2 separate regions of the Homo sapiens genome follow, and region 2 is linked to region 1. The links come from fine-mapping of genetic effects on gene expression. A gene starts in region 1. The other region holds a variant in brackets. All regions are shown on one strand. Distances are between the middles of the regions. Region 1 holds the start of E2F8 (E2F transcription factor 8). Region 2 overlaps ZDHHC13 (zDHHC palmitoyltransferase 13).

What was found. PIP is the estimated chance that this variant, and not a neighbour inherited with it, causes the effect.
Region 2: its variant is the best candidate, but not a certain one, in a credible set for the expression of E2F8 in prefrontal cortex (CommonMind, PIP 0.88).

The regions. Positions count from the first base shown.
Region 1 is chr11:19,238,895-19,244,271 of GRCh38, reverse strand. E2F8 (E2F transcription factor 8) reads left to right here and starts at 3,327. Exons shown (of 13, transcript NM_024680.4): 1 at 3,327-3,724; 2 at 4,042-4,165. The coding sequence starts at 4,151. The region is part of intron 1 of CSRP3-AS1 (CSRP3 and E2F8 antisense RNA 1); the gene reads right to left. RefSeq lists enhancers at 981-1,550, 1,551-2,122, 2,328-2,437 and a silencer at 2,558-3,257.
Region 2 is chr11:19,172,987-19,178,363 of GRCh38, reverse strand. It overlaps ZDHHC13 (zDHHC palmitoyltransferase 13), which reads right to left. Exons shown (of 17, transcript NM_019028.3): 17 at 1,949-2,542. The coding sequence ends at 2,404. Among named protein-coding and RNA genes, the nearest start is that of CSRP3-AS1, 21 kb to the left of the region's middle. RefSeq lists an enhancer at 3,375-5,377. The variant C/T (reference allele first, on the strand shown) is at 2,546.

The DNA of each region.
Region 1 (5,377 bases):
AAAACTGGTCTAACTTCAGTGAGACACAGATTACACAACATGATGAACAAAAGACCAGAAACAAATACACAAATATTCCCTTGGATTATGTAACTAATAAGTGGAAAACATATTTGATGGGAAAATTAAAAAAAAAAAAAAGTTTCAAGCTTATGCCCTGATCCTTCCTTCTTGGTTATGCAGTAAACATAAAAGTTTTCAGTAGTCTTTTCCCTCCTTTACACTCATGCTGCATTTCAAATTGATACTCTACACAGTGATGAGTAGAACCTTTCTTTCTTTATTACCTTTCATTACATGAAAGTGTTGTTAAGACTTCAAAACTGTATCACTTCACTCTTAATAAAACCACTTTTCAACATATTCAATGAGTTTGACTATAATTTCACTTCCTTCAGTAAGACATGACAACTATCAGTAAGCAAGAATTACACTCTCACCTTCCTGTTTTTTTGTGTGTTTAGGGAGGGGTTGAAATGGTTAAGGGCTAGCCTGAGTTGGCACTAACATTGCTCTCACAGGAACTTTCAGAGGCAGTGGAATGGGATGTATGAACTTGGAGCAGGTAGACCTGGATTCTAATTCTGGCTCTGTAGCTAACTTGGCCATCAGTTTAACCCTTTTGTGCCTCAGTTTTCTTCTCTATAAAATGGGACACAACTATCCTATGAAGCAAGTAAGGATGAGCACGCCGCACAGTGGTGAACACAGCTTTCAGTGGAAAGCCCTGAGACGTTAAACACCCTTGGCTTCAAATCCCAGTCCTGTCCCTTACAGTTAGACCTTGGGTTTGTCACTTTAAAATGCTGCTTCCCTCTCAGAGTCATAACCCATGCTTTCACACCTGTGCTGAGTATGAAATGAGAGGCCATCTGTCAAGTGTCACCAGAGGTGGCTGCTCCCTGCATGATGTGCCTTACAGGTAACTGTCACTCAGACATCTGCAGCATGAATGGCCCTGTAGATCACAGATTTGAACGAATTAGTCACTATCTCTGAACACAGGTGCATGAGGCAGACTGCTTCTAAAGAACTTTAAAAGGGATTTATGGCCCACAGGACTCCGGGGCTGTAATAACTTCGGGTACATTAGGCATAGCTGAATCTATGCACTCTTGGGAGCGCTGACCATTCAGGGGGTTGGGGGAGATGACAATCTGGCCAACAGCTAGTGGCTAAAGCAGAAGCACCAACTCCCCACTTTTTGTTGATACATTTAGAACCCAGTCTTGCTCCAAAAAAGGGGTACCTGGGCTTAGTAAGAACCAGCCGCTCAGTGCTAGCAACGGTGGAACCCTATATAGTGACCTCTGCTTTATTTCAAATCTGCGAGCCACAGGCAGTGGCCCCTCTGCACAGTACCTGAAAGGCCTGCTTTCAGGTCGAAGCGCCTTCTTGAGCAAGACCTGCACCTCAGCTGGCGACGAAAGGGGGACAGGGACACGACGGCGCCAACATTCCAGGGCGGCCACACCGCAAGCCTGCGGTCGCGTTCCGCGGGGAGATGAGCCTTCGCTCGCCACGGAGACCCCTGGCCCTATGGCCGGCAGCTGCTGCGCTGCGACCCCAGCCTCAATATCATAGCATCCCCGCCCTCATCGCGTTTCGCAGAAAATAAAAATGCCTCGCCCTGCTAGTCAGCAATGGGAGAGTCACTGATCCCCAAGTTAGCGGTGGGAGTGGGGAAGTGTGGCCCCGGGCCCTGCTGGAGCCTAAAGACACGCGATTACAGAGGAGGACGAGCCAAACCGAGTCCAGATCGAGAGACCGGCGCCCAGATCTCGGCGCGGTTGGGCAACACTCAGCACCAGTCCGCAGAAAAGTCTAAGGCAGAGGAGAGCAAAGGGAGCCAACGCGGGCGCAAATGATCCAGGTGCAGCCGAGGCAGCGCCGCCGCCCCGGGCCTCGGTGTCCCGTTCTGCAAAGTGAGGACGAAGGATCGAAGTGTCTCCCCGACCCTGCTAGGGCTCTACAGGGAACCAGGCTAAAGCTGCCTGAGGCTCGGAGACCGGAAAAAGAGGGAAAGACAACAGGGAAGAGAAAGGGAGGAGTGGGTGGGAGACCCTGAGGAAAGACGGCGAGGACAGGGTTGGAGGGTTTTCCGCCTTCCTCCTCTTCCTCCTACACCTGAGTTCTCACCGCTGGGCCAAGGCCCAGAGCCCACGGAGCTTAGGCACCAGTAGCCAAGCTTCTCCCTCCTCGCGCCAGTTTCTGCGAGGCACGGGGCAGACGGTGGGCAGCACAATCATGCATGCCAGGGGTGCAAGGGGGAGAGGTCCGGCTGGAGTCCGAGGGCAGGTGAGCCGGCCTGGGGCTGGGCAGGGGTGAGATAGCCCCAAGCGGGGAATCGCAGGGCGCCTGCGGCCCAGCCCGCGAGCCCCGGACGGGCCAAATTTTATTCCCCAACTTTGAGCAAGGGGAGGGGGTGTATGCAAAAAAAAAAAAAAAGGAAAAAAAAGTTGCTGAACTTTTCCCCCAACTCTGCCGTAGAGGCGGGAGTGGAGGGCGGTGCCTGCACCGATTCGCCGGCGGCTACGGTCGGGAGGCTCGGATTGGCGCTCGGGGGCCGGGGCCGGGGCGAGCGGGCGTGGGGGAGGGGAGCGGCCCTCCCCGCCCGCGGTATCGGCTCGCGCCGGGAGCGGGTTAATTTCAAATCGGGGGCTTGGCTGCTCCTGGACGGTCACGCTCCCTCTGCCCGCCAGCCGGCCCGCCAGTCCCGGTCCCGGCGTCTCTCTCCGGCACCCACCTCGGCGCTGCGGAAAGACTGACTGCCAGGTACGCGGGCTCCCGGGCCTGAGAGGGGCAGCGGTGCTGACGAGTCCCGGCTCAGCCCCCGCCGGCTCCCGCCGTGAGGTGGACTGACAGGTCAGCGGGACGCAGAGGGGCGCGGCGCCCGGGCGACACGGCACCGGGAGAGGGCTCGGGAGGGTGGCGGCGGCGGCGGCGGCGGCCGTTTCCCGCCTCCCGCTTCGCCGGGGGCCGTGAGGGAGGAGCTGAGCTCCCGCGCAGAGGGGCGGGGGCGAACGAGGGGGAGGGGCGGGGTTGCCGTGGTTCCGGGCGCGGGTTTGCCCGCGCTCAGGCCCCGCGCAGCTAAGGGGAGGCGCCGGCCACGGTCCGACTTTCCGCGCCAAATTTTTAAATCGAAGGCGGAAGGTCCGGCCCCGCCCCTGGCGCCGTCGGCCAATCGCAGGCCCGCTTCCGGCCCTCTGATTGGTCGGGAATTGTTGTCCTGGAAACCACGATGATGCTGTCCGGGAACTGTCGGGACTGCGGCGGGCGGACAGGGCCTGGGGGAGGGGCCTTTGGCCGAAAGTTGGGGGAAGTGCACTGAGCGAGTGGCGGCCGGGGGACAGTACCTGCTTGCCTTATTGGGCAAATACAGCCTTCCAAGGTGGAGTCTAACGCCGTGGTGTGAACTGGCCACCCGAACAGGGAGTAAATAGTGCTTTGTATCTTTAAGGAAGCCCTTTTTTAAATTTAAAAAAAAAGTCTTAATTATAAGACTCTTTAAATGCCCAACTGCATACTTGGAGCTTTGGGACTGAATTTGGAACTTTCCTGTCAAGCGACCTCCCACGACTTTACTGCTGAGCCTGTGCACGTGTGTGTAAGGGGAGAAATCCAGGCATCTAGATGCAGACTTGTACCCAGTTACTTGGGGTCGCGTGCGCTCAGCTGGGACCTGGGCTCGTGCGCTTAGTCCGGAGCCCTGATCTGCGAACAGGTGGGTGCTTCCTAAAGTATTCGCTGGGGTCCGGAGAATGGCTCGCCTTTTCTACAGATGGGAGAGGGCTGTCACTAGAAATTCCGTGGGTTGCTTGAAGTCTTAGGACCGCCGATCCGTTTGCTGAAGGAATTTACTGGCATTTGTTGGCGTTCTCCGCTCAGTGGGGCGATCTCTGGTCGAGAATAAAATGTAAATCTAGTTTGTCATTTTTCGTTAGGCTTTGTTTCCGTAGCCTCTTGTCCGTGAAGGAATTTTCAACAGATCTTTTGGTTCTTGTTTTTCTCTAACTTTTTCTATTTCCTTTTTTCTTTAAGGATATTAAAACTTTTAGTACAATTGATTGGACTACTTGAACCATCGGGATTTGGGGAGGAACTCCAGATTTTTCATTTTTAAACTCTAAATGTATGAGGAATTTACAGAATGGAGAACGAAAAGGTACTTTATAACTTCAGTATTCATCATTGCAATTTTAAATTCAGTATCATCCTGATTTAACTCCATAATTTTTCCCTATCCAATGTGTTTTCTTAATGCCACAACCTTGGTTAGCCTCTGTAAAGACCTGGAAAAAATGAACCTTATCTTATAGTTTCAAAAATATATAGTTTAAAATATATACTAATTTAATTAATATAGTTTAAAAAATGAAAATTATCTTAAAAAGAAATTCAGTCTCCAATCATGTCAAATGCCCTTTCTGAATTCCAGTTGTTCAAGAATCCTCAGAAATGTTGTAATGAAACTAACAAATTTTATTATTCTTAAAAATACCTTTTCTCTCTTTATGTCTGAGACAGCTACCAAATCATTAAAAACTAGAAAGAGTGTAAAGGGGCAAACCTACCCCTCTTCAAAAATTCGTTAGTTTCATTACAACATTTCTGAGGATTCTTGAACAACTTGGAATTCAGAAAGGGCATTTGACATGTTTGGAGACTGAATTTCTTTTTAAGATAATTTTTTACCAAATTGGCAGCTTATTTATGGGGTCTGCAAAATGCTCTGTTTAGGGGGCAAACATTTTGTAAAATTACAAAAGAATTGTCTGTGGGGGGTGTCCAACTACTAATAGGTTTAAAAAAGTGAACTTACATGCATATTTCCTAATAGTTTTAGATGTTAGTCAAATAAGAGAATTACTATTGCTTCTGATAATCTGAGGCAAAGAAAAAGCCTATTGTCAGATCAGTACATCTCAGATGCACACACTGGCAAGGAGCTCCTGTTGGGTCCACCATACTGACTTCCATGTAAGAAGAGCACCATACTTGGAGTGAAAATATCTGTGTTCCACTCCTACGTGACCTCTCTCAGCCTGCATCTTCTCTTCTGCGAGCTAAGAATGCAGGATTCCATGAACATACAAACGGAAATGCACTTGATAAACCCAAGATGTCACAACATGTCCCATTTGTCCATGTTCTTAAAGTTATTTGGTCTGCCTATTATTTTACTTATTGCTGTTCCAAGCATTTTCTTTAAAATAGATAAAGATGGGAGTAGTGTGTGAAGTCCCTGGTGTCCAAAACTGGAAGGAACATAGTCTCCATTAGCCTTATTTATGAACTGCTGTTAATTTACCCTTTTGTCTCAGTGGCTATCCTGCTTCTGCCAGGATCTAGCTTTGTGGTCTTAGGTAGCTGTTAG
Region 2 (5,377 bases), 66 kb after region 1:
TACCTCTTGCCTAGACCATCATTAACAGCTTATTTCTAATATTCTGTATCTGTCAAGTTTCACCAGAAAAACAGAAACCACACTAGTTATTTTAATAAAGAGAATATAGTAAAGGGAATTAGCTAAACAGGTGCTATTATTTTTGAAAAAGTAACAAGGGAACACACTGATTTAACATAGAGATAGTAATTGCTAGAGGCAGCTATCACTCCTGGGAATAGGGAAACTAAGAGAAGAGATGGGTTATCATAATTCAGATGCCCAGAGAAGAAGTATCCCGGGGCAGAAGTCAGATGTCAAAGGAGAGAGCCCTGCCTGGTTATTGCTAGTACTTCTAATGGGGCACAATGAAGTAGGTTTTGGGAAGAAGAAAAGTTAGACATTGGTTCCAAAATGTCATTGCAGGGCAAAGGGCCATCGTTGGAGCAACACTGAGAGGAAGAGCGGGCAAGAAGAATGGAATAAGTCCCTTTTCTGCTCCTCCTTGCAGTCTACTACCGACTTTAACAGGAAGTCATCTGGCAGGGAGACTGTAGCTTGCAGAATTCTAGCCCTAGAACATACAACACAGAGCACGGAAGACTGGATTTGGTGCATTTCTCTACCTCTAGCTTATCTTTCTGGTAATCAGTTTTCTGTTAGACTTCTCAATTAATAGCCAGCATTTATTGAACATTTACTATATGCCAAGTACAATTCTAAGCACTTTTAAACATTAACACATTTAATTCTCATAATGACATTTCAAATTGTTTACTATTATTATCTACATAATCCAAATGAGGAAACTGAGTTTCTAGAGATTTATGTCATTTGCCCAAAGGGATTAAAAGTAACTTATGTGGTAATTAATAGGTCATAGATTCAAACCCAGGGTCCCTAGAATCTGGTCTCTTTACCACTACAACTGCATACCTATTAAGCAGTGATTCTCAAGCTTAAACTTTTCACAATGTATAGAATGGAGAAGGTAAGGTTCCTTAAGTAAATGATTCTCAAACAGTAGTATGCATATGTAAGAATCATTAGGATTCCAGCACTCTCTCCCTAGAGACTGATTTGAAAGGTCTGAGATGGAGAAACTGAATTTTAAACTGTGAGCCCTAGACACCCACCCTGGCCCTGTGACTCTGATCTAATGTCTCTGGACCATTTGGACCACAATACTAACTTGGTAGGAGTTGGTGAGAGAAGAAGGGAGAAAGAGAATATACCTTGAAAAAGCTCTTCTGTACTCCAATTGAGAAGCACAGTCTTCAAACACAATTCTGATAGCATCATCTCTTGCTTAAAACCCTGAAATTGGTTCAACAAATTCTAATATTTTTTGAACAAATACTATGTGTCACGTGATATTCTAGGTGACTGTGACTGTACAGTGGCAGCCCCATTTGGTATCTCTGTGACCCTGGAGAAGATAAAAACTTCTTTGGCTTTAGTTTCCTTATCTGCATCTCTTATCTCTGGTAGAAGAGAGAACGGATCCTTGCAATGAAAGGCCACATGATTAGAGTACAACATGCTCCACTGACACTGCTAAACAAAACAGGATTATATGCTTCAAGGCTTTGTAGGTCACAATGAGAATTTTTGCTTTTACCCCAAGAGCAACAGGAACCCAAGGGAGGTTATTCAGCAGGAAGGTGCCATGCCCAGGGGTGTATAAATACTATACTAAAGTTGAATTAGCATTTCCTGTAGAACAAGGGAAATTAGTAATTACAGTCATATCAGTCTAATATTTTGAGGGTACTAAGTAAAGTTGTAATTAATATTTAAGACTTTCTATGTTCTATTTTCTAAGTAAGATGAAAAACCAAATTAAATCTTGCTTACTGGTATTAATCATAATCTCAACTCATTCCTGGAATTGTGAACTAATTTGTGTCCTATGTACATCTTAATTTAAGACTCTAGAAGTGTTAAGTGTCAGAAACCAAGTCTCAACTACAAAAAAAAATTTTTTATTAAGTGTGAAAGCAAAACAGGTACATCTATTTAAATATTTTTTACATATTTATAGATACAACAAAGACAAATAACTTAGCAAAAATTACAAGTTTAAAGAATAGTACTATTTTGAAACAGCCAATATAGTATCTGAAAATATTCCATTTTATCCATAATCAGTGAGTATTATTTCCAAAAAAAGTAACTTGCATTTTCTTGTGAAAAATATGGTTTTTTTTTTAGATGTCTGCCAAGATTTATCAGAAAAGTCCATCTTTCTAAACCTAAAAAATTGTAATGCCTTTATTGAGAACTTTTTTTACCTAATGGCTTTAAAAACCACGTGTTTTCCTTTGGACTTAGGTGAATTCTAAATCTTTACTTCACTTTCAAACTACAGGGCATCGACATAAACAAAAACAAATCAGATTGAGAGTTTTGGGTTGCTTTTCTTCATACTGAGCGAAGAACCTTCTCCCTGGCTGGGTGAAAGACCATGGTGTACTGTGATGTCCAATCTACCACACAGGGCTTCACCAAGCCAAAGCAGCCACACTGAAAGAAATCTGCCAGGTTCTGCATGAATCCAAGACTG[C/T]CAAGAAAAAAAAAAAGAGAACATGTCTTACTATATTTCCTGTGTAGCTTGACAAACATTTATGGAGAATCTATAATATGCAATGTCCTTTGAACATCTTGCAGAAATCCAGGGGTAGATGGGGTAGATCAGATAGTTCCTGGGCTTCTGGTACCTTAAAACTGAAGCCTATTTCTGGACCTGAATCTATATTTGGAGATTTCCTGGCTTCTGCTCGCTCAGCCACTTAATTGGGTTTTTCATCATCACTTCATTTTGGATTCCCCACTTAATGGACTGGCCACTGACATCAATAAGTTTCTTTCTTTCTATTCCTACTTCCCTAATTCAGACCTTGATTACCTCAAAGGCCACATAGGCCAGAACAACTGTAATCAACAAGATGGGATTTTCCCTAAACCTTTTTTTTTTTTTTTTTTTTTTTTTTTTGAGACGGAGTCTCGCTCTGTCACCCAGGCTGGAGTGCAGTGGCGTGATCTCGGCTCACTGCAAGCTCTACCTCCCAGGTTCACGCCATTCTCCTGCCTCAGCCTCCTGAGTAGCTGGGACTATAGGCGCCCACCACCACACCCGGCTAATTTTTTGTATTTTTTTAGTAGAGACGGGGTTTCACCGTGTTAGCCAGGATGGTCTCAATCTCCTGACCTCGTGATCCGCCCACCTCAGCCTCCCAAAGTGCTGGGATTACAGGCATGAGCCACCGCACCCGGCCTCCCTAAACCTTATAAGTAACTCTCTAAATGAATTCTCTGTCTCAATTCCTTTTAATTCATCTTGCATATTGCAGACTGTTGTCCTCCAAAAACCCTGATATAGTCATAGCCCCTCACCTCCCAATCAAAACCCTTTAAAGATACTCCTCTGCCTAGAGGCTCAAATAAACATTCCTCCTCTTTGTATTCAAGGCTCTATATAAGGTATCCCTCTAGTTCTAGCTCCTCTGTGCATCTTTATAAATCTCCTGCTCCAGCTACTCTGGCTCTATTTTTCCCATGATCATAGATGCGTGGGCCTGGAACGCACACTGCTCTACACTTAGCTCAGGAACCCCCTTATCCTTTCAAGTCCTACCAGTTCTCAAGGCCCAGGCCAATACCCACATTTCCACTGGAGCTTTCCTGACTGCACTGTCTTAGGCATCATTTTTTCTCCATTAAATTTCGGAAGTACCACTATCTATTCCAGTTATGAGAAATGCTCATTTTTACGCATATGCTCTATCTTTTAAGTGCCTAACCCAATCCCTTACACACAACAAAACACACCTGTCCATGAGGATGACTGCGTTGCTGTTTAGAAGATTGTGTTCTGCATGGGGATGATGGCATTGCTGCCAGTAAAGGACCAACACTACTCAGAGGGCAACTTCCTGGGAAGAAGGCTATGTGGAGTTGATGGGTTGGCAGTGGGGATGCATGCTAGAAATGTATAGGGCCTGGTTCAAAAGCTAGTTAGAGTAGTGTCCCCTTCCCCTTGGTTTCAGTTTCAGTTACCTGTGGTCAACAGCAGCCCAAAAATATTAAAATGAAAAATTCCAGAAATAAACAATTAGTAAGCTTTAACTTGCATGCCGTTCTGCGGAGCATGATGAAATCTCACGCCATCCAGCTCTGTCTGCCTGAGACATAAATCATCCCTTTGTCTGGTGTTTCCACTCTGTCTACACTACCTGCCTGTTGGGTTATCAGACTGAAATAACATGGTATATACCGAGTTCAGTACTATCTGCAGTTTCAGGCATCCATTGGGGTTCTTAGAACATATCCCTCATGGAGAAAGGGTGACTACTGTACTGAGTAAAAGTAACTTAGGGGAGGAAAACAAGTAAAATCTTTGGTTTGGGCGGGACTCAGGTTTTCCCTTGAGTTCCTCTAGTTGATGCTGCCATCATTCAGCAAACGTGCTCTAGTGCTCTCATGTGTCCCTCTATTCAGACTCTTCTCTAGGGCTTGGAATGCCCTTCCTCCCTCCCAACTCCATTGTGCCCTGCCCCACATCTCTCAAGGCTCAGCTTCAAATTCCAACTCTATCACAGGCTTCCATAGTTTAGTGGAGTAAACATTTATTCCTCTGGTTTAGCTACAAAGAAAGGGATTTTATTATCACTGTCAATGTGAAACAATCATCACAAGTTTACGCTCCTTTCCACTCGCCATTGCTTTAGCCACCTCTTCCCAGTTAAGTCAATTTCTCTCCTCTCCTAAATACACATTGTAGTTATATCCCAGTCTCTGATCCCCTTGTCTAACAGCCTAACAGTTTCATCTTGTACCAACAGCATGCTTTAAAATAGACTGCTCATGAGATATGCAGCGAGCATTCAAATCCCCAGAGGGCTCTGGGTCACCTCTGCAGCACTCCCAGTTTCCAAGACCCTGCCATAAGTGGCAGGGAGATAAGCTTCAAAGCCCAATCTTTCATATCGTAAGACGAAGGTCTTTCTATACATACTCTCATTTTCAACTGAAAACGTGTTTTATACAACCAAATGCTCCAGGGGGAACAAATCCAAATCTGAAAAATTGGCTTCTCCCTGGTACAAGAGGGCACATTCAACATAGGGCTAGAAGAATTAGTGGTGATAGAAAGCCAGGCTGAAAATCCTGGCAAAGCACACAAGTGAACGCTCTCTACAGAGCACCCTGTGGCTGGCTCTCTCAGCCATACACTTAATTATCTCACATCAACTCCACGCCAGCAACAAACAACCTTGTGACCATGTGGCTTGACTGGAGAGATTCCCCACCTTGGCAAAACTTCAAAGTCACTTACTATTTGTGCTGTGTCCAGTAAACTAACTCTCGAATTCTTACCACCGTGGGGCTCACGACT